2 separate regions of the Homo sapiens genome follow, and region 2 is linked to region 1. A link means that fine-mapping ties the variant in region 1 to the expression of a gene that starts in the linked region. Tissue or cell type: testis. Region 1 holds a variant in brackets; the other region holds the start of a gene. All regions are shown on one strand. Distances are from middle to middle.

What was found. PIP is the estimated chance that this variant, and not a neighbour inherited with it, causes the effect.
Region 2: INSR starts here. The variant in region 1 is fine-mapped to the expression of INSR in testis (GTEx, PIP 0.91).

Annotation. Positions count from the first base shown.
Region 1 is chr19:7,223,254-7,234,048 of GRCh38, forward strand. All of the region lies in intron 2 of INSR (insulin receptor), which reads right to left. Among named protein-coding and RNA genes, the nearest start is that of INSR, 66 kb to the right of the region's middle. The variant T/G (reference allele first, on the strand shown) is at 4,607.
Region 2 is chr19:7,289,395-7,299,303 of GRCh38, forward strand. INSR (insulin receptor) reads right to left here and starts at 5,020. Exons shown (of 22, transcript NM_000208.4): 1 at 4,398-5,020. The coding sequence starts at 4,497. RefSeq lists an enhancer at 3,462-4,220 and silencers at 4,202-4,261, 4,312-4,451, 4,592-4,871, 4,892-5,281, 5,422-5,601.

The sequences.
Region 1 (10,795 bases):
ACATGTCACAAGCATTAATTACCTCATTTGATTTTCACCCAAACCAAGAAATGGAAGTATCTAGAGAAAGAAGCCCAGCATAAAGACACAAGGGAGCATTTTTGGAGGTAACCATTGACAGAAATGAGTTAAAGAAAATTCAACTGGTGTCCAGGCTCTGGTGTAAAATTCTGCTTTGGGGTGAAACGCAGGGTTACCTGGGCACACTGTGATGGTCCTGGCTAACCAGTAGCAGGTGGGCTTTTGCAGAGATAATCCAGGGCCCTGTGATGAGTTGGTCACCCTAGTGACCCAATTTTGGCCTCCAGATATTGGCTTCTGGCCAATTCTAGGAGGATCAGGAAGCCAAATTTAGCACAGAATGTGCTGCTTCTTCATTGAACTCCTATTCACCCTTCAAAACCCAGTACAAAAGTTCCCTTCCTCTGTAAGGCAGAGTATAGCAAGAAAAGCTAGGGTTCTGAAGCCAGAGAGACTGTGGGTTCAAATCCTAGCTCTGTGAAAAGATTGTTGTGAGGACCATGTGCCTGGGAGACAATACATGCTCAATAACTCTATACAGCTGGTGCTCAGTAGTGACTTATGGATATTCCCAGGTGCTTCAAAGCCCTCAACCTGATGGATATTACTCTATTAAACCCAAAATTTCCCATCTTCCCTCCTCTAAGCCACCAGAATAGACTGGAACAAAAAAAAATTTTTTTTTTTTTTGAGACCAGTCTCGCTCTGCCACCCAGGCTGGAGTGCAGTGGCATGATCTCGGCTCACTGCAACCTCTCCCTCTTGGGTTCAAGCCGTTCTCCCACCTCAGCCTCCAGTAGCTGGGACTACAGGCGTACACCACCACACCCAGCTAATTTTTGTATTTTTAGTAGAGACGGGGTTTCACCACGTTGGCCAGGATGGTCTCGATCTCTTGACCTCGTGATCCGCCTGCCTCAGCCTCCCAAAGTGCTGGGATTACAGGAGTGAGCTACCACACCAGGCCAATTTTTTTTTTTTTTTTTTTAAAGACAAAGTCTTGTGACATGCTCAAACCAGCTCATGCAAATCTCCGTTTCAGTCTTTCTCCCTCAACCTCAAGCCCTGACACCAAGCAGGGCTGTTTTCCAATTGGCTTTTCCTCTGCCAAGAATTTCCCCAGAGCACAAACAGAGGCGTGCAGCGAAGTAAACACGGGAAGCTCTGAAAACCCATTCATGGGCAACTCAAAGGTGTCGAGACATCAGGGTGTGTGGCCGAGCTTTCCGCCATGGGGGCAGCGAGCCTCCACGAAGCCCAGGCGACTTGCCGACGGCCCCACTCCAGGTGACCAAGCCACATCTCGACCAGAGGAAGGAGAACATACAAAGAAAGACACTGTCTCTGCCGGAGGGCGATGGTCCAGGCAGTGCACCCTGGGCGAAGGGGCCAAGAAGCCGTAAGATGTGCGTCCCGAGGAAATGCACCGTGGTTATAAATACAGCAAAGAGTGTTTGGATGAAGCTGGTGTCTGAAAGTGGAGACAGTCCTGGCTAACCAATAGCAGGTGGGCTTTTGCAGAGATAATCCAGGGCCCTTTTCACAGAGACCTAGGGCTGTAAGGAAGTCCCCCAAACGCCCAATAAATATCCAGGTTCTTGTCTCTAAATTAGCTGGCTGAAGAAAACTTGGTCCAAACTGCATCAGAGGTGGGGGTGGGGGAACAGAGGAAAGAAAAGGGGATGAGAGAGAGACAGACAGACAGACAGACAGACAGAGACAGAGAGGGGAGTATCCCATTAAGGCAGCAGGGCAGCAGCAAAGAGGAGAGAGGAGGGGAGAGGGGAGGTTGTGGCCACATGCTGTGTAACACTTAGAGTTTCCTATGCACCCAGCACTATTCCAATTATTAACCATTTATTTCCCCCAACAATCCTAGATGTTCCCATTTTACAGAGGAGAAGACTGAGGCACAGAGAGGTTCAGTAACCTGCCCATGGTCACACAGCTATTGAGCGGCCGAGCCACAAGAAGACACTTGCTCCATCAATGTTACTGTGGGCCAGTTGCCGTTATAGGTGTAAGATGATTCCTCAGGGAGAAACGCTAATGTTCCCCTTCCCCGACACTTTCTCCAGATCAGCTTAGGGGTGCTTGAGTGCCTGACCCGCCACCCCCGCCCCACCACCAAGCCAAAATGCTTGAGTGACACTCTCTGATTCTCCAGTGTACCATGTCACCAATTAGGTGTTTCAAGAGGGGCTTCCAAGAGGGAAGGACCTTTCTGTTTTCTTCCCTGTGGCTATGTCCTGACTCCCCAGCCCAGCACTTGAGTAATACATAAACCCACCTTCATTAAATGACTATCATCATATTCCTCCAGATTCCTTGGTCCCCCAAGTCTAGGGACGTGGTTTTTGTCGGTAGCATGGCAGTGTCAAACCACAGAGCCACGAGGCTGATGATGGGCTCTTGGTTTCCATTTCCCCCCCCTCAAAAAAAGAGCAGAGAATAATTGCAGAGTGCCCCTCACCCCCATTCCAGCACCCTGGTCCAGGGGTCCTCAAATGGAGGCGATTCTGCCCACCAGGAGACACCTGGCAGTGTCTGGAGACATTTGTGTTTGCCATGCCTCGGGGGCGGCGCTCCAGGCATGGAATGGGTGGAAGCCAGGGATGCTGCTAGCACCCTCAGTGCCCAGGACGGCCCCACCCCAGAGAACAATCCAGCCCCAGTATCCGCAGGCCCCAGGTGGAGAAACCCCGTCCCGGAATGAGAAGCCCCTCTCCTCCACCACATCAAAGCCAAGATGACAACGTCTCTGAGTTTGACACAAGGTTAGGGGGAAGTCTCATTTTTCAAATGGCTGGCTGTAACACTAAAAAAGGAAAATTAAAAATGTCTGAGGATCGGCCTAGTGTGGTGCCTCACGCCTGTAATCCCAGCACTTTGGGAGGCCGAGGTGGGAGGATCACGAGGTCAAGAGATCGAGACCATCCTGGCCAACATGGTGAAACCACATCTCTACTAAAAATACAAAAAAAAATTAGCTGGGCATGGTGGCGTGTGCCTGTAGTCCCAGCTACTCAGGAGGCTGAGGCAGGAGAATGGTTTGAACCTAGGAGGTGGAGGTTGCAGTGAGCCAAGATCGCACCACTGCACTCCAGCCTGGCAACAGAGTGAGACTCCGTCTCAAGGGAAAAAAAAAAAAAAAAAAAACAACTCTAAGTACCAACTGCAGTGGCTCCTGCCTGTAATCCCAGCAATTTGGGAGGCCGAGGCAGGAGAGTTGCTTGAGCCTGAGAGGTCAAGACCATCCCTGGCAACATAGTGAGACCCCATCTCTACAAAAAATATATAAAAATTAGCCAGGTGCGATGGTGTACACCTGTGGTCCCAGCTACTCGGGAAGCTGAAGTGGGAGGATTGCTTGAGCCCAAGAGGTCAAGGCTACAGTAAGCCATGATCACGCCACTGCACACCAGCCTGGGCAACAGAGCCAGACCCTGTTTCCAAAAAAAAAAAAAAAATGCCTGAAGGAGGAGGTGAATCCTAGAAACAGCCCAATTTCATCTCCATATACCCCTACTCCAAACAGGTTTCCAAATTGCAAAAATGGCTGATAAAAAAAATTCTTTAAGCTGATGTAAAAACTAATGCCCTCCTCCTCCTGCCAATTTTGCTACTCTTGAGCAAGATCTCAGCAGCTCCACTTGGATGCTGGAAATATATGCCAGAGGAGACTTATGATGCTAATTTCCTTTAGTAAACAGTTCAAATCTTGTCTTGGACACCAATGAAATAAGAAAAGCTAGCCACAGGCTGTGTGGAATTCCTTCCTCTTAACACTAAGCATCAGGCATTCCATGACTTTTGCTCTTGGGATGGCAAACATGAATGTTTCTAGAACACTGAGTTTTCCAGCATATACCTTTTCTGGTTATTTTCAATAGGTTTGGTGTGAAAAATTAACGAATTCACTATTTGTTGCTGGACAGTCCCTCTGGAACAAAGAACTGTGTGTCAAATACCAGCTGAATAATCAAGCAAACATTTGCATTCTTTTTTTTTTTTTAAAGACAGGGTCTGGCTCTGTTGCCCAGGCTGGAGTGCAGTGGCGTGATCACAGCTCACCGCAGCCTCAACCTCCTGAGCTCAAGCAATCCTCTCAACTCAGCCTCTCAAGTAGCTGGGACTACAGGCATGCACTACCACACCTGGTTAATTTTTGTATTTTTTGTAGAGATGGGGTTTCACCAAGTTGCCCAGGCTGGTCTCAAACTTCTGGACTCAAGCGATCCGCTTGCCTCAGTCTCCCCAAATGCTGCAAATACAGGCATGAGCCACTGCACCCGGTCAACATTTGCATTCTCGTCGAAAGATCACGTGCTTTTTCCAAAGCATGTGAGAGTTTTGCATCGACTCCAGCCAGCTTAGACCTAATGTGGGTCCTCCCCTTTCACCAAGAGGACCCGGCTATTGCAGATGCCCTTGCAAGTTACAAAACATGTTCTCCATCAAGCCACACAGGGTTATGGATCGGAAAGGCAGCCCACCCTGATGAAAACCACAGTCGCGGTACAGATTGTTTTGTTTTTGTTTTTGTTTTTCCAGAACACTGATATGTATCCTCAATGGTTAACAT[T/G]GTGTCCTAAAAGGTGTTTTTCTGTTTCTTAACATACCAGAAACAAGATGGTCTGAGACCGCGACCTTCACACTAGGGTCATATTTCAACACAGAAACCAGGGTAGCATCACCCAGAAAAAAAAAAGGGAGGGGAGGTAAATCAGACTGTCCCAAATCTAGGGCCTCTCTCAGGGCACAAGAAACAGCCCCAGAGGGCCCCCATGGGTCCTGCTCCCTAAGGCCATTTGTCCCTCTTCACTGTGGTACAGGGTGGTTCTGAAACGCACCCTAACTTTAGTGATGACACAGGGTCCGGCAAGTATCCAGACCTATAGTCCAGCAGACTTTCCATGAAGACCTGCCCTAAAATGAATATCGACACTTGGCCAGAAGCAACAAAATAACATTCCACTCTGCTGGAAAATTGAGGCGGGGGCTTAAAGGCTTATTTTAACAGCTTAACAGCTTAGCAAAATAAATCTGCTGTCATTATACACAGACAAATGTCGTTTATGTCTCTTGCATCTATGAGACAATCAAGATTTCATGATCACACCCCATTTACTCAGTGAGGCTAAAGACAGGAAGGTCAAGAGTATTAACAATTATATAATTATCCTCTGCAGTAAAACAATTGAGGCATTCCACTCAAATCAGAAATGAGACTGGGCTGACCATATTCAGCTGCGTCACTGAACACTGTTCTGGAAGTTCCTGCCATAACAAGGTTAACAGCAATAACTGGTCTAATTATTGGCAAAAGGCAAGAAGTCATCATTATCTGCAGATGCTGCAATTATAGAGTTGGAAAATTGAAGGGAATCAATTGCAGGGCTTTTAGAACTAGTAAGCATTTAATAAGGTAGCAGTAAGTAAAGAAAACACAATCCCTGTCCCCTATGCTACAAAATAATCACTTTTAATACTTCAAAACATCTCCCTTATATTAGATGATAGACACACGGATAGATGGAGAGATGAATGGACACATGGATGGGTGGATGAATGGGTGGGTGGAGGGATGGATGAATGAATAAGTGGATGTATGCATGGGTGGATAGATGGATGAGAAGATTGCTGGGTGAGTGGTTGGAAGGGATGGAGGGACAGGTGTGTGGATTGTTGGCAGAGTAGACAGAAGGATGGATGGATGGATGGATGGATGGACGTCTGGGTGGGTGGATGGATGGATGAATGGATGAGTGGATGTATGGATGGATGAATGGATGAGTGGATGTATGGATGGATGGGTGATTGGATGAGTGGATGGATGGATGGGTGAGTGAATGGATGAAGGGTGACTGAATGAATGGATGGGTGAGTGGATGGATGATGGATGAATGGGTGAGTGGATGAATGGATGGATGGATGGATGGATAATAGATGGTGGGTGGTGAATGGACTGGATGAATGGATAGATGGATGGATGGATGGGCAGATGAGCAAGTGGATGGAGGGATGATGGATGGATGGATGGATGGATGGATGGATAGATGGATGGATGGATGGATGGATGGATGGATGGATAGATGGATGGGCAGATGAGCAAGGGAGTGATAGATATAAAGCCAGCAATCTAAGAACAATGCTTACAAGAAGTAGACAAACTGTGTCTGAAGCAAAATCACAAAACATTTCTAAGAACAGGAAAGAACCCTTGGGAAAATGGAGAGGAAATCCATGACATAGGAGAGTACAAGTAAATACTGCCAAGGTGCTCCTTCTCTCCATCAATTTATGGACTTCACATACAATCAACCCCATAAAGGGCCTCTGGGTCTGTGTTTTCCTTTTCCTTTGCTTCCCTTTTTCTTTCTTGGAACTTAGCTACAGTTTTTAAACTTTTGGAAGCATAAACAAAGCAAGGATGCTTTTGAAAAATGAAAAAGAAGAATTACTCTGGAGGATACATTTACAGTCTTTTTTTTTTTTTTTTTTTTTTTGAGACAGGGTCTTGCTCTATTGCCCAGGCTGGAGTGCAGTGGCACAGTCATGGCTCACTGCAGCCTCGAACTCCTGGAGTCAAGTGATGCTCCCACCTCAGCCTCCCAAGTAGCTGAGACCACAAGTCAGTGCCACCATGCTCAGCTAATTTTTCTTTTTCTTTTTTTTGTTTGTTTGTTTTTGTTTTTGTAAAGATGGGGTCTTGCTGTGTTGTCCAGGCCGGCCTCAAACTCCTGGCTTCAAGGAAGTCTTCTGCCTCAACCTCCCAAAACACTGGGTTTACAGACATGAGTCAGCGTACCCGGCTCAGAACTTTTATCCATATTGTTCTCGGCCACATTCTCAGAGGCTCGCACAGCACCTGGCTCTCAGCAGATGGACAGAAGGCACAGGTCAATGAATGGGCAGCTTAGGTAGGGAAGATGGATTTGAAGGCCATGTAAGCAGTTAAAGGGATGGGACTCAGTAATTGATCAGGTGTAGCAATGAGGGAGAGAAAGATTCCCAGCTCTAGACTGAGGTCAGGCTGTGAGCTCAGAGCAAAGCCTGCAGTTCATCTTGGTAGCAGCTGGATCACTTTGAGCACAGTGCTGACCTTTCTGTCAGCCTCAACTTCTCCCTCTGCAAATTAGGAATCCTAACAGTGTCCACCTGGTGAGGTCACTGAGGCGATGACAGGATAAACCACACCAAGTGTCTAGCTCATAGCATGGTACTCCACCTTTCAGAAATATTACCTTGGCTGGGTGAGGTGCTTCATGCCTGTCATCCCAGCACTTTGGGAGGCCAAGGCAGGTGGATCACCTGAGGTCAGGAGTTCGAGACCAGCCTGGCCAACATGGTGAAACCCCATCTCGACTAAAAATACAAAAATTAGCCGGGTGTGGTGGCGGGCATCTGCAATCCCAGCTACTTGGGAGGCTGAGGCAGGGAGAATCGCTTGAATCCGAGAGGCGGAGATTGCAGTGGACTGAGATTGCACCACTGCACTCCAGCCTGGGTGACAGTGAGACTCCATCTCAAAAATAAAAAAAAAATAAAAAATATTAGCTCAAGGCCTCCTCTAGGAGAGATTAGGTCAGACTGTTCCTCCTGCAGCAAGGCCCTTTGCAGTATGGAAAAACCTCAGAGGTCTGTGCAGAAGAGAGACTATCTAGGGACAGATTTCAACAAAGCCAGTGCCAAGGAGGCGCGTGTCTACAGCGGAGCTGCGGCCTTTAGAAGCCTCCAGCCTCCCCTCCTGGCATGGACACAGGGAAGCCAACTCCCTTGGCCAGAGCCAGGAGCCAGGAGCCACACCAGCTCGCTGATTTCCAGAAACTCACAATTGCCCACTTACTCGGCACAGCCTGTGCGCCACGGAGGAAACTGGAAAGGAGGGATCTCCTTGGAACATTCTGGCAGCTCAGCAAAGAGGGGGGAAGAATTAATTTCGGATCCTGAATTTGCATCTGCAAATGCTGTTTTCGTTCAAACGCTTTGTGTTGTCTTGTTTTTGGTGGTGTTTTTTGTTTTTTTTTTTTTTTTTTTTTTTGAGATGGAGTCTCTCTCTTTCGCCCAGGCTCTAGTGCGGTGGTGTGATCTCTGCTCTCTGCAACCTCCATCTCCCAGGTTCAAGTGATTGTCCTGCCTCAGCCTCCTGAGTAGCTGGGATTACAGGTCCCCAACACCACGCCCTGCTAATTTTTGTATTTTTAGTAGAGACAGGGTTTCACCATGTTGGTCAGGCTGGTCTCGAACTGCTGACCACCAGTTATCTGCCCACCTTGGCCTCCCATTGTGCTGGGATTACAGACATGAGCCACGGCACCCGGCCCTGTGTTGTCTTGATAAGAGTTTAAAGTGACTGGATGTTGGGGCTATATATCCACCACCAACAACCTGCCATACATCCTTTTACCCTCAAATTTTTGCTCTTTGAATCCTAACTGCTCCTGGCAGTAAACCCCATCTAGGACTACCTGCCAACATACCTTAAACTTTTCTGTCTCTTTTTTTTTTTTTAATTATAGAGACAGAGTCTCACTATGTTGCCCAGGCTATTCTTGAACTCCTGAGCTCAAGCAATTCTCCCACCTCAGCCTCCCGAAGTGCTGGGATTACAGGCATAAGCCACCACACTCAGCCAAACTTCTCAAACAATACTCTTCTTAAGCCATATCTCAGGCTCTCATATGCCCTACTTTTTGCATGAGGCTAACTATTTCTTTCTCTACCCGCTTCTTCAATAAAACCAAACTAAACAATAATAATCAACAATGGTGATAGTAATCATTGTAACACCTCATTCCCGGGGGTACTGGGAATTCACTGGAAAGGGCTGGGATGAGGCAATGTCCTCCATTTTGTTTTCAGTGGTGGTTACACAGGTGCATATATTTTTTGTCAAAATTCATTGAACTCAATGCTTCAGATCTGTGCATTTTATTTTATTTTATTTATTTTGAGACAGAGTCTCCTTCTGTCACCCCGGCTGGAGTACAATGGCCTGATCTTGGCTCACTGCAACCTCCGCCTCCTGGGTTTAAGCGATTCTCCTGCCTCAGCCTCCTGAGTAGCTGGGATTACAGGAACGCACCATCACGTCTGGCTAATTTTTGTATTTTTAGTAGTTGGCCAGGCTGGTTTCAAATTCCCGACCTCAAGTGATCTGCCTGCCTCAGCCTGTCAAAGTGTTGGGATGACAGGCGTGAGCCACTGCACCCCGGCCATGTGCATTTTATTGTATGTTAAATATTTCAGTTGTTGGCCGGGCCCAGTGGCTCGCACCTGTAATCTCAGCACTTTGGGAGGCTGAGGGTGGATCACGAGGTCAGGAGATCGAGACCATCCTGGCTAACAAGATGAAACCCTGTCTCTACTTAAACTACAAAAAATCAGCCAGGCGTGGTGGCAGGCGCCTGTAGTCCCAGCTACTTGGGAGGCTGAGGCAGGAGAATGGCGTGAACCCGGGAGGCGGAGCTTGCAGTGAGCCGAGATCCCGCCACTGCACTCCAGCCTGGGCAACAGTGCAAGACTCCGTCTCAAAAAAAAAAAATTTCAGTTGCTAAACTTAATCAAAGAAATAACAGTAGCTACAATAGGTCACAATGTACAGCTGCAATATAACTACAATGCTAGCAACAATGTAACTACCATGTTTATCATTCCCGTATCCTCTTCTCTGATCCTCACAACGAGCTTGTGATACATGTTGGGTTTGGTTTTGGTGTTGATTTTTTGAGACAGTCTCCCTCTGTCACCCAGGCTAAAGTGCAGTGGCGCCACCTCGCCATCTCGGCTCACTGCAACCTCCGCTTCCTGGGTTCAAGTGATTCTCCTGCCTCAGCCTCCTGAGTAGCTGGGATTACAGGCACCAGCCACCACACCTGGCTAATTTTTGTATTTTTAATAGAGACGGGGTTTCACCATGTTGGCCAGGCTGGTCTTGGACTCCTGACCTCAGGTGATCCACCCACCTCAGCCTCCCAAAGTGCTGGGATTACAGGCGTGAGCCACCATGCCCAGCCTGTGATACCTTTTGGTTCCCATTTTACAAAAGAGGAAACAGATCCCGGAGAACTCCAGTGGACTTGCCCAGAGCCCCACGGCTACTAACAGGTTAAGCCTGGTTCCAAACCATCGTACTATGCTGTGTGGCCTGGCATGTGCTAGGTAGGGGGAGAAAGAAATGAAACATGACTGCAACTTTTCAGAAACTTCTACAAGCAAGCCCTGACCCCGAGTGCTGGGAACCACCCTATCAATGAAAGAAACCCCACACACTGCCCACTCTGCTGTCCTGCTACCCTGCACATCCTATGCCTTATACCAAGGATGGCCAATCCCTGCAACACTGGGTCACCCAGGAAAGCTAAACGTCTTTTGTTTTTTCTTTTTCTGTCTTTTTTTTTTTTTTTTTTTTTTTTTGAGACGCAGTCTCGCTGTGTTGCCCAGGCTGGAGTGCAGTGGCACGATCTCCGCTCACTGCAAGCTCCGCCCCCTGGGTTCACGCCATTCTCCTGCCTCAGCCTCCTGAGCAGCTGGGACTACAGGCGCCCGCCACCACACCCGGCTAATTTTTTTGTATTTTTAGTAGAGACAGGGTTTCACCATGTTCGCCAGGATGGTCTCGATCTCCTGATCTCGTGATGTGCCCGCATTCTGTCACATTCTGTCACACAGGCTGGAGTGGTGCAGTGGCGCAATCTCGGCTCACTGCAACCTCCACCTCCCAGGTTCAAGTGATTCTCCTGCCTCAGCCTCCCTAGTAGCTGGGACCACA
Region 2 (9,909 bases), 66 kb after region 1:
TTTTTCTTTTCTTTTTTTTTTTTTTTTTTGAGACAGAGTCTCTCTCTGTTGCCCAGGCTAGAATGCAATGGTGTGATCTCGGCTCACTGCAAGCTCTGCCTCCCAGGTTCAAGCGATTCTCCTGCCTCAGCCTCCCAAGTAGCTAGGATTACAAGGACCCGCCACCACACCTGGCTAATTTTTGCATTTTTAGTAGAGATGGGGTTTCACCATGTTGGCCAGGGTGGTCTCAAACTCCTGACCTCAGGGGATCCGCCCACCTCAGCCTCCCAAGGTGTTGGGATTACAGGCGTGAGCCACTGCACCCGGCCGAGGATTATTGAACAAAGAGAGGAGAAAGAGCAAGAGCCCAGATGGGTAAATGTCTCAGACAGGGAAAAGGTTAACTCCTGCAGAGACGTGCCTGGCAATGTCTGGAGACATTAGTGGTTGTCATGCCTGGGGGGAAGGGGATCCTCCCAGGACCACATGGGTGGAGACCATGGTTCCAGCTCAACACTCTACATACAGGACAGCCCCCACCACCAGGAATGATCCAGCCCCAAATGTCAGCAGTGCCAAGATTGAGAGTTCTGCTTAAACCAAAGAGGAATGGAAGTCAAGGGTAGAGTGGGGTGAGGTGGGGAGCCCTGGGGACTCAGCCCACACCCTGTGGTCTCTATGCATGAATGGGGAAGGGCAAGAAGCAGGTCTCCAGGAGAGAAGCAAAGAATAAGAATAACTGCAGAGGCCAGACACCGTGGCTCATGCCTGTGATCCCAGCACTTCGGGAGGCCAAGGCAGGCAGATCGCTTGAGGCCAGGAGTTTGAGACCAGCCTGGACAAAATAGCAAGACTTCAGCTCTACACATTAAAGTAAAAATTAGCCAGGCAGGGTGGCGTGTGCCTGTGGTCCCAGCTACTACGGAGGCTAAAATAGGAGGATGGCTTGCGTCCAGGAGGTCGAGGCTGCAGTGAGCCATCATTGCCCAACTGCACTCCAGCCTAAGCAACAGAGCAAGACCTCATCTCAAAAAATAATAGATAGCTAGAGAGATAGATACAAAAATCACACTGATTTTCCTCCACCCTTCATCCCAATCAAAATGCCATATTGGGCCCGGAGTGATGGCTCACACCTATAATCCCAGGTCTTTGGAAGGCCGAGGCAGGCAGATCACTTGAGGTCAGAAGTTTGAGACCAGCCTAACCAATATGGCGAAATCCCATCTCTACTAAAAATACAAAAATTAGCCAAGGGTGGTGATACACGACTGTAATCCCAGCTACTCAGGAGGCTGAGGCAGGAGATGCACTTGAACCTGAAAGGCGGAGGTCGCAAAGATCGTGTCACTGCACTCCAGCCCGGGTGACAGAGTGACACCCTGTCTCAAAAAAAAAAAAGAAAAAAAAAAAGGCCAGGTACGGTGGCTCACTCCTGTAATCCCAACACTTTGGGAGGCCGAGGCGGGTGGATCACAAGATCAGGAGGTCGAGACCATCCTGGCTAACACAGCAAAGCCCTGTCTCTACTAAAAATACAAAAAATAAGCCGGTGTTGTGGAACACGCCTGTAATCCCAGCTACTGGGGAGGCTGAGGCAGGAGAATCCCTTGAACCTGGGAGGTGGAGGTTGCAGTGAGCTGAGATCGTGCCACTGCACTCCAGCCTGGGTGACAGAGCAAGACTCCGTCTCAAAAAAAAAAAAGCCATATTGGTTGACATTAGAGATTAATGATCTGAAAAGTTCTTTGCCCCTCCCCAAGCCTTCAAGAGGCATCACAGCCCATTTATTTGACAGGATTTTGTTCACCATCACCCCAATCGTGGGGGGTACGGAGGCTCGGACTCAAAAGAACAAAGATTTGTTAAGAAACCATTGCTCTGCAGCCACACTAGCTAGATTGCAATCCCAGCCCTGCTGCCTGCTGGCCTCAAGCGAAGTTTTCTCACTTGTGAAAAGGGAAGATTAAACCGCACCTCGTGGGGTTTTGCCGTGAGGATTAACTGAGATTATATATGCAAAGCGCATAGAACAGCACCTGCTGAGAGCTTGCTCTTCTAATTCTTAGGAAGGTATTATGCAGAGAATAAGGAACTCCTTAAGATGATAAAGGAGCCCAGTACACCCAGGAACTCCACCACTTGTGCCCCACTGCAGAACAAATATTTACTGAACACCTACTATGTGCCAGGCATCGTTCTGGGCTCTAGAAATGCAACGGTGAACAACAACAAACCATAAACCCCTGCCCATATGGAAGCCATAAATGTGCAAAGAAATGGTAAATCCATTTACTGACCCTGAAAGCCCAGGCACAGATCCACAATTAATTACCAAAGCTACAAGGAACAGAAGAACAGGGAACCACACACACGCACACATAGAATCTGGCATAGTTCGAAACCACTCATCTTGGATTTTCTTTTTATTTATTTATTTATTTTTGAGACAGAGTCTCGCTCTGTCGCCCAGTGGCACGATCTTGGCTCACTGCAAGCTCCGCCTCCCGGGTTTACGCCATTCTCCTGCCTCAGCCTCCGGAATAGCTGGGACTACAGGCGCCCGCCACCACGCCCGGCTAATTTTTTCTATTTTTCAGTAGAGACAGGGTTTTACCGTGTTAGCCAGGATGGTCGTGATCTCCTGAACTGGTGATCCACCCGCCTCGGCCTCCCAAAGTGCTGGGATTACAAGCGTGAGCCACCACGCCCCGCCTTTTTTTTTATTTTTTTGAGACAAAGTCTCGCTCTTTGGCCAGGCTGGAGTGCAGTGGTGCCATCTGAGCTCACAGCAACCTCCTCCTCCCGGGTTCAAGCAATTGTCCCGCCTCAGCCTCCCAAGTAGCTGGGACTACAGGCGAACGCCACCAAACCCAGGTAATTTTTGTATTTTGAGCAGAGAAGGGAGTTTCACCATGTTGGCCAGGATGGTCTCCATCTCCTGACCTCGTGATCCGCCCGCCTCAGCCTCCCAAAATGCTGAGATTACAGGCTTGAGCCACCGCAGCTGGCCAGATTTTCTTAACAAGAACTCCAACTAACCGCCACCCTTCATTGAGCACCTACTGTCTCCCAGGCACCTGGGGGCGGGGCTGGGGGGGGGTGGGCCCGGGGCTTTTAGACATTATGTGATTGACAGAGTCGACTCAGCAAACCCGGTTGGTCCACTCTAGCACCTGATTTTACATGCACCCGTTTCCCCATCAATACATTTAAGAGCTTCAATTCCTTCCCTCCCTGACCCCTTCCTCATCACGACTGATTTCCTTTTATGGAGAAATCTGAAACAGTAACCCAACAGATATTTTTAAAGCAGGGCCTCAGACCCCACAGTGGGAAACCCAGGCTATATTCCTTAAATGATTGCGCCATCTTCATCTTACAACCCCAAAGGTGCCTATTGTCAAGCCCAAGGAAGATGCTGCCCACACGTGGGAGAGGGGCCCATGGGGTCAGGGGGAACGAAAGGCTCACTCAAGGTCAAAGGCTCCTTCATGAAGCGCAGGGCTGAGGGGAGAGGAGGGGTCAAGGAGACAGCAGACAAGGGACAGTAGTCCAGATTCTTGGGCAGAACGGGACACACAGAGGCTCAAGTCCTGGCTCTGGCACTGACTTTAGGGCAAGGGAGTTATGCGTCCTACATGAGCCTCAGTTTACTCCTCTGTGAAATGGGTGCATAACTGTATCTGCCTCCGGGGGCCACTGTGACAGTCCAGAGAGATAAGATAGACTAGGCTGTGGCGTGCGGTGATACCAATTACAATAAATAGGGTAAAAAACCGCCACTACTTCTGCTACAATTGCTGCTGTTGCTAAGGCTTTAGAATTTGCCTCCGGACATCTGGAAACAGAACCCAAAAGGGTAAACATGGACCTAGAGTCCGGGGTGGCCACGGGCCTAGATCCAAGGTAGTTGGGTAGAGGGGGGCTCTGCAGTCCCTGACCCCAGGCAGCGTCACCCACCGGTGAGGCACTCAGGGCGCTTGGCTCTACCTACACCATATGCGCTCGGGGGACTTGGCTGTTCGGGGCTGTCCAGACCCAGTGACCCCACTTCCCGGCCGCGACCCAAAGATGACGCGTGTCGTGTCTCCGGAGCGACTTGGGCTCGGAGGGGCCGGGGCACGGGTCGGAGGCGCGCTCCAGAGAGGAGCCCGCGGCGGGGCGGGCACCGGGGCAAGGTTCCTCGGGCTCAGGTCGGGCACGCAGGGCGCGGAGGCGCGAGCCCGGGCGGGCAAAGGCCAAGGTCAGAGGCTTCCCGCTCCCCCTACGCGATGCAGGAGCTACCGTCCTGGCCACCGCCCCCCGCCCCTGGGGAGGGTTCTCAGTCCACAAGCGGGGGCTCGATTTTGGCTTGGGTGGGGTCCTCTCCCCATCGCGGCGCTCCCCGCCCACGCCCGCGCCCCCAGACTCACCCTCTCCGGGGTACAGGTGGCCCGCGGCGCCCAGTAGCAGCGCGGCCACCGCCACCAGCAGCGGCGCGGCCGCCGCCCCCCGCCGGCCCCCGGTGGCCATGGCTGCGGGAGCGCGGGGTCTCCTCGGATCAGAGCGCGCGGCGCTGGCCCGCGGGGGTCATGCTCCGAGGCGGCCACCCAAGAGGCGCTGGGGGCCGCGCGTCCTTCTCTTCCACGCCCGCGACCCGCGGGCCGCAGCCCCCCTGCCGGGGAGGGCCCAGAGGCAGCCCCGGGAAGGGCGCGCGCGGCTTCGCCAGCTACAAATACTGAGCGGAGGCCCTTGCGGTGGTGGCCCCGACCCCCCGGCCGCTGCGGCCCGGGCCCCGTCCCAGGATCTCGGGGCCCGGAGCTCCGCGCTGCGCCCGGGACTGTCTCTCGGCTCTCGGCCCCGCGCGCTCTGGGTCGCGATCTGCGGGCTCCGGGACAGAGGGACGCGCGGACCGACGGACTAGCTGACTGGCGGGCGGGCACCTGGGCTGGCGGGTGGCGGGCGGGCGGCGGGAGAGAGGGCTGCTCGGGCCCGTAAACAACGCGGCCCGTCAGCTGGGCCCCGTGCGGGCCGCGGGAAAAGGCGGCGCGGATCTGGCCTAGGAAGGGACTCTGCGCCCGGGAGAGGCCCAGGAGAGGGAGGGAAAGCTTGCAGGGGAGGGAGGTGCCGCCCGGCCCCGCCCCGCCCCGCCCGCCTCCCCGCCTCCCTGTGCCGGGCCCCGCGCGGGAGGCCCTGGGCGCGCCGGGACCGAGGGCGCGCCCCAGATCCGCGCGCCCTACAGCCCCGAGTCTCCTCCAGTTTCAGACCCCCGGAGGCGCCCCACAGGCCCGACGCAGCGGCACAGATCCTTTCTCTACCATTTTGCTATTTTGTTCATAGTGGGCTTTGGAGGATTCCTGTTGATTTTTTAAAAAATACTGCATTAAAATGTTTATTTTGGTGACTCGAGGTGGTTTTGGTTTCTTTCTTTTTTTTTTTTTTTCACTCCCTTAAATTTTGCACCCCAGGCGAGTAGTGTCTCACTCGCCTTTCCTCAGTCCGGGCCTGGCCAGCGACACTCGTCCCAGAGCGCGTGGGCGCCCCCAGATGTCCCGCCCGCGAGTGCGCCCCGGCCCAGGGGCGAGACCCAAGCCAGGCCCCTGGGGACAGCCACGTGCCCGCGTGCCCAGTGCGCTCCCTGTGTTCAAGTTGGAGAAATGACACCTGGAAAAATGTGCAGACGCTTCTGAAAGGGCAAAGACGACGCCAAAGAAGACGCCGGAGACCTCGAATAGGGCGCAGGTGGACATCTCTGATTTTCAGCAGACCAGCCTGTATGTGTCTGAAGTCTAGCAACGACATTCACCAACAAGGCGGGACAGCGGTTCCACCTACCTTACTGCAGGAGAGGAAGGGGCTTTCAGTATAGGAAAGCCAGAACTCAATGGGAGGAGGGTTCCTCCACCCCTCACTCCTGTGTGGTCTTGGACCAGGGACTTTTCTGTCTCTGGGCCAGTTTCACTTGTGTAATGGGTTTAATAATACCTGCATGCCAGTTCTGGGGAGGTACCCGGGAAAGAAAACTTAAGAAAGCGCCCAGCACAACCCTAGACCCAAGGCATTCATTCTTCTTTCATTCAATAAACAGTTTGCTAGGAGCTGGACCCACTGTTCATGCAACAGGCCAAACCTATTCCTGCCTCTGGGCCTTTGCCCCAGCATTTCCCTTGCCCGTAACACTCCAGGATGGCTTCATCTCTGAAGTGCCATCCCTAACCATATTTTTGCAAATCCTCCCCCCAGTTCCGTTTCCTTCTCTCTCTCTCTCTCTCTGTTTTTTTTTTTTTTTTTTTTTTTTTTTTTTTTTTTTTTTTTTTAGATGGAGTTTTTCTCTGTTGCCCAGGCTGGAGTGCAATGGCCAGATCTCAGTTCACTGCAACATCACCTGCCTGGGTTCAAGTGATTCTCCTGCCTCAACCTCCCAAGTAACTTGGATTACAGGCATGCGCCAGCACACCCAGCTAATTTTCTGTATTTTTAGTAGAGACAGGATTTCACCATGTTGGCCTGGCCGGTCTCAAACTCCTGACCTCAGGTGATCCACCGGCCTTGGCCTCCCAAAGTGCTGGGATTACAGGCCTGAGCCACTGCGCCTGGCCCCTTCTCTCTCATTTTCATAGCATGTTTACCCCACTACCTGCAATTGTTTGTTTTTTTTTTTTCTTTTCTTTCTTTTTTTTTCCTTTTGACAGAATCTTGCTGTCACCCAGGCAGGAATGCAGTGGTGCAATCCTAGCTTACTGCAGCCTTGAACTCCTGGCCTCAAGCAATCCTCCTGCCTTGGCCTCCCAAGGTGCTAGGATTACAGGCATGCGCCACCATGATTGGCCTTGAAATTCTTATTCGTTTTCTGTGTCTTCTCCCCTTCCCGTGAAGGCGGAAATCTTTTCGGTCTTGTTTCACTGCTTAAACCCAGTGCCTGACAAATCTGTTGCTTAATAAATATTTGTTGAGTGGGAGAATCAACAAGCAATAAGTAATAGGGGATTTTTCAGTGAGCAAAATAAACATGACCCATTTCCTTATGGAGTTCACAACTGAGCCAGGGAGAGAGCCCTTAAAATAATTGAGTGTGTAATGAGCTGAGGGAAATGGGAGGTGCATAGGGAGGGGTTTGCTGAGGACATGGGGTTTTTTGTTTGTTTGTTTTTTGATGGATCTTACTCTGTTGCCCAGGCTGGAGTGCAGTGGCACGATCTTGGCTCACTGCAACCTCCGCCTCCCAGGTTCAAGCAATTCTCCTGCCTCAGCCTCCAGAGTAGCTGGGATTACAGGTGCATGCCACCACGCCTGCCTAATTTTTGTATTTTTAGTAGAGGCAGGGTTTCACCATATTGGACAGGCTGGTCTTGAACTCCTGACCTCAAGAGATCTGCCTGTCTCGGTCTCCCTAATTGCTGGGATTACAGACGCGTGAGCCACTGCACCTGACTGAGGATGTGATTTTGAGCTTAAGTCTGAAAATGAAGAGGAGCCATCCTAGGGAAGCCATAGGGATGTGTTTCAGGTGGGGGAAGGCATGAGCAAAGGCCCAGAGGAGAGTGGGCAAGGCATTCTTGCAACTGAACCAGGCATTCACTGTAGCTGCAGAAAAGAAAGAGGAGAAAGTGAAGCCATGGGTGAGAACTGCAGTGGGCCCTTGAACATGAGTTTGAACCGTGCACATCTTTTTTTTTTTTTTTTTTGAGGCAGAGTCTCGCTCTGTCACCCTGGCTGGAGTGCAGTGGAGCAATCTCAGCTCACTGCAATCTCCACCTCCAGGGTTCAAGCTATTCTCCTGCCTCAGCTTCCCAAGTATCTGGGACTACAGGCACACGCCACCTCACCCGGTTAATTTTTGTATTTTTAGTACAGACGGGATTTTACCATGTTGGCCAGGCTGGTATCGAACTCCTGACCTCAGCTGATCTGATCAGCCTCCCAAAGTGAGGTCATCTTTAAACAGAATGTTTTTCAATAAATATATTGGAAACATTTTTAGAGATTTGCAATAGTTTGAAAAGACTTGCAGATGAACTTGGTAGCCAAGAAATATTAAAAAAAAATTAGGTATGTCATGAATGCATAAAATATATGTAGATACTAGTCTGTTTTATTATTTTTGTTATTATTTTCTTTTAGAGACAGGGTCTTGCTCTGTTGCCCAGGCTGGAGAGCAGTGGCCCAATCATGGCTCACTGTAACCTCCAACTCCTGGGTTCAAGCGATCTTCCTGGCAAGCACCAACACGCCCGGCTAATTTTTTTACTTTTTATAGAGACGAGGTCTCACCATGTTGCCCAGGCTGGTCTCTAACTCCTGAACTCAAGTGATCCTCCTGCCTCTACCTCCCACAGTGCCGAGATTACAGGTATAAGCCACCATGTCCAGCCCTATTTTATAATTTGCTAACATAAAATATACACAAATCTGTTACAAAAAGTTAAAATGTATTAAAACGTACACACACACTTACAAACCATACATGGTGTTATTCCAAGTCAAGAGAAATGTAAATAAATGTAAAGATGCAGCATTCAATCATAACTGCATAAAATTAACTATAGAATATATTGTGTTATTGTAACAATTTCATAGCCACCTCCTGTTGCTACTGGAGTGAGTGCAAGTGTTGCAAGTATCCGCTTTAAATGCCATGTTACATTAATTATCTCCCTGTGGGCAGTTCACCTCTCCAGGAATTTGTGCCCCGGTAAAAAGGGATCTCTTGGCGGTTCCCGCGTATTTTTCACTGTGTTTAGTGCAATACCGCAAACATTGAATAACATCCTGAGACCCATGTAAAGTGCCACTAGTGATGCTGGAAATGCTCCCGAGAAGCAGAGAAAAGTCAGGACAGGACAAGAAAAAGTTGAATTGCTTGCTACGTAACATAAATGGAGCTCTACAGCTGCGGTTGTCTGCTTCAGACAGACAATTCATCTTGTAAACAAATTTATGGCATTGATAAATATTGTAGCGTTCTGTAACTGTAAATGTATTTTCTCTTCCTTGTGATTTTCTTTTTCTTTTTCTTTTTTTCTTCTTTTTGGAGACAGGGTTTCACTCTGCTGCCCAGACTGGAGTGCAGTGGCACCATCAGGGCTCACTGCAGCCTCTACCTCCTGATCTCGGGTGATCCTCCTGCCTCAGCCTCCCAGGGAGCTGGGATTACAGCCACATGACACCATGCCCAGCTGTGATTTTTTAAATAACATTTTCTCTTCTCTAACTTGCTTTATTCTAAGACTGTAGTGTGTAGAGGCTGGGCACAGTGGTTCACTCCTGTAATCCCAGCACTTTGCAAGACAGAGGGAGGCGGATCACTTGAGGTCAGGAGTTCGAGACCAGCCTGGCCAACATTACAAAACCCCATATTTACTAAAAATACAAAAATTAGCCAGGCGTGGTGTGCTTGTAATTCCAGCTACTCTGGAGGGCTGAGGCATGAGAATTACTTGAACCTAACAGGCGGAGGTTGCAGTGAGCCAAGATCATGCCACTAGCGCACTCCAGCCTAGGTGATGCAGTAAGACTCTATCTCAAAATAATAATAATAATAAAGTAAGAAAGAAAGAAATACAGTATGTAATACTTGTAACATACAAAATGCCTGTTAATCGGCTGTTTATGTTATTGCTAAGTCTTCAGGTCAACAGCAGGCTATAAGTAGTTAAGTTTTCAGGGAGTCAAAAGTTATATTCAGATTTTCAACTCTGTAGGGGTGAATTGGCACCAGTAGCCACAACACTATTGAAAGGTCAACTATAAAAAGTGCAGAACCTAGAATATGCCATGTTAAGATTTGCTTTGGGGCTGGGTATGGTGGTTCATGCTTGTAATCATAATCCCAGCACTTTGGGATGCCAAGGTGGGTGCATCACTTGAGCCCAGGAGTTCGAGACCAGCCTGGGCAACAAGGCAAAACCCTGTCTCTACCAAAAATACAAAAAAAATAGCCAGGCA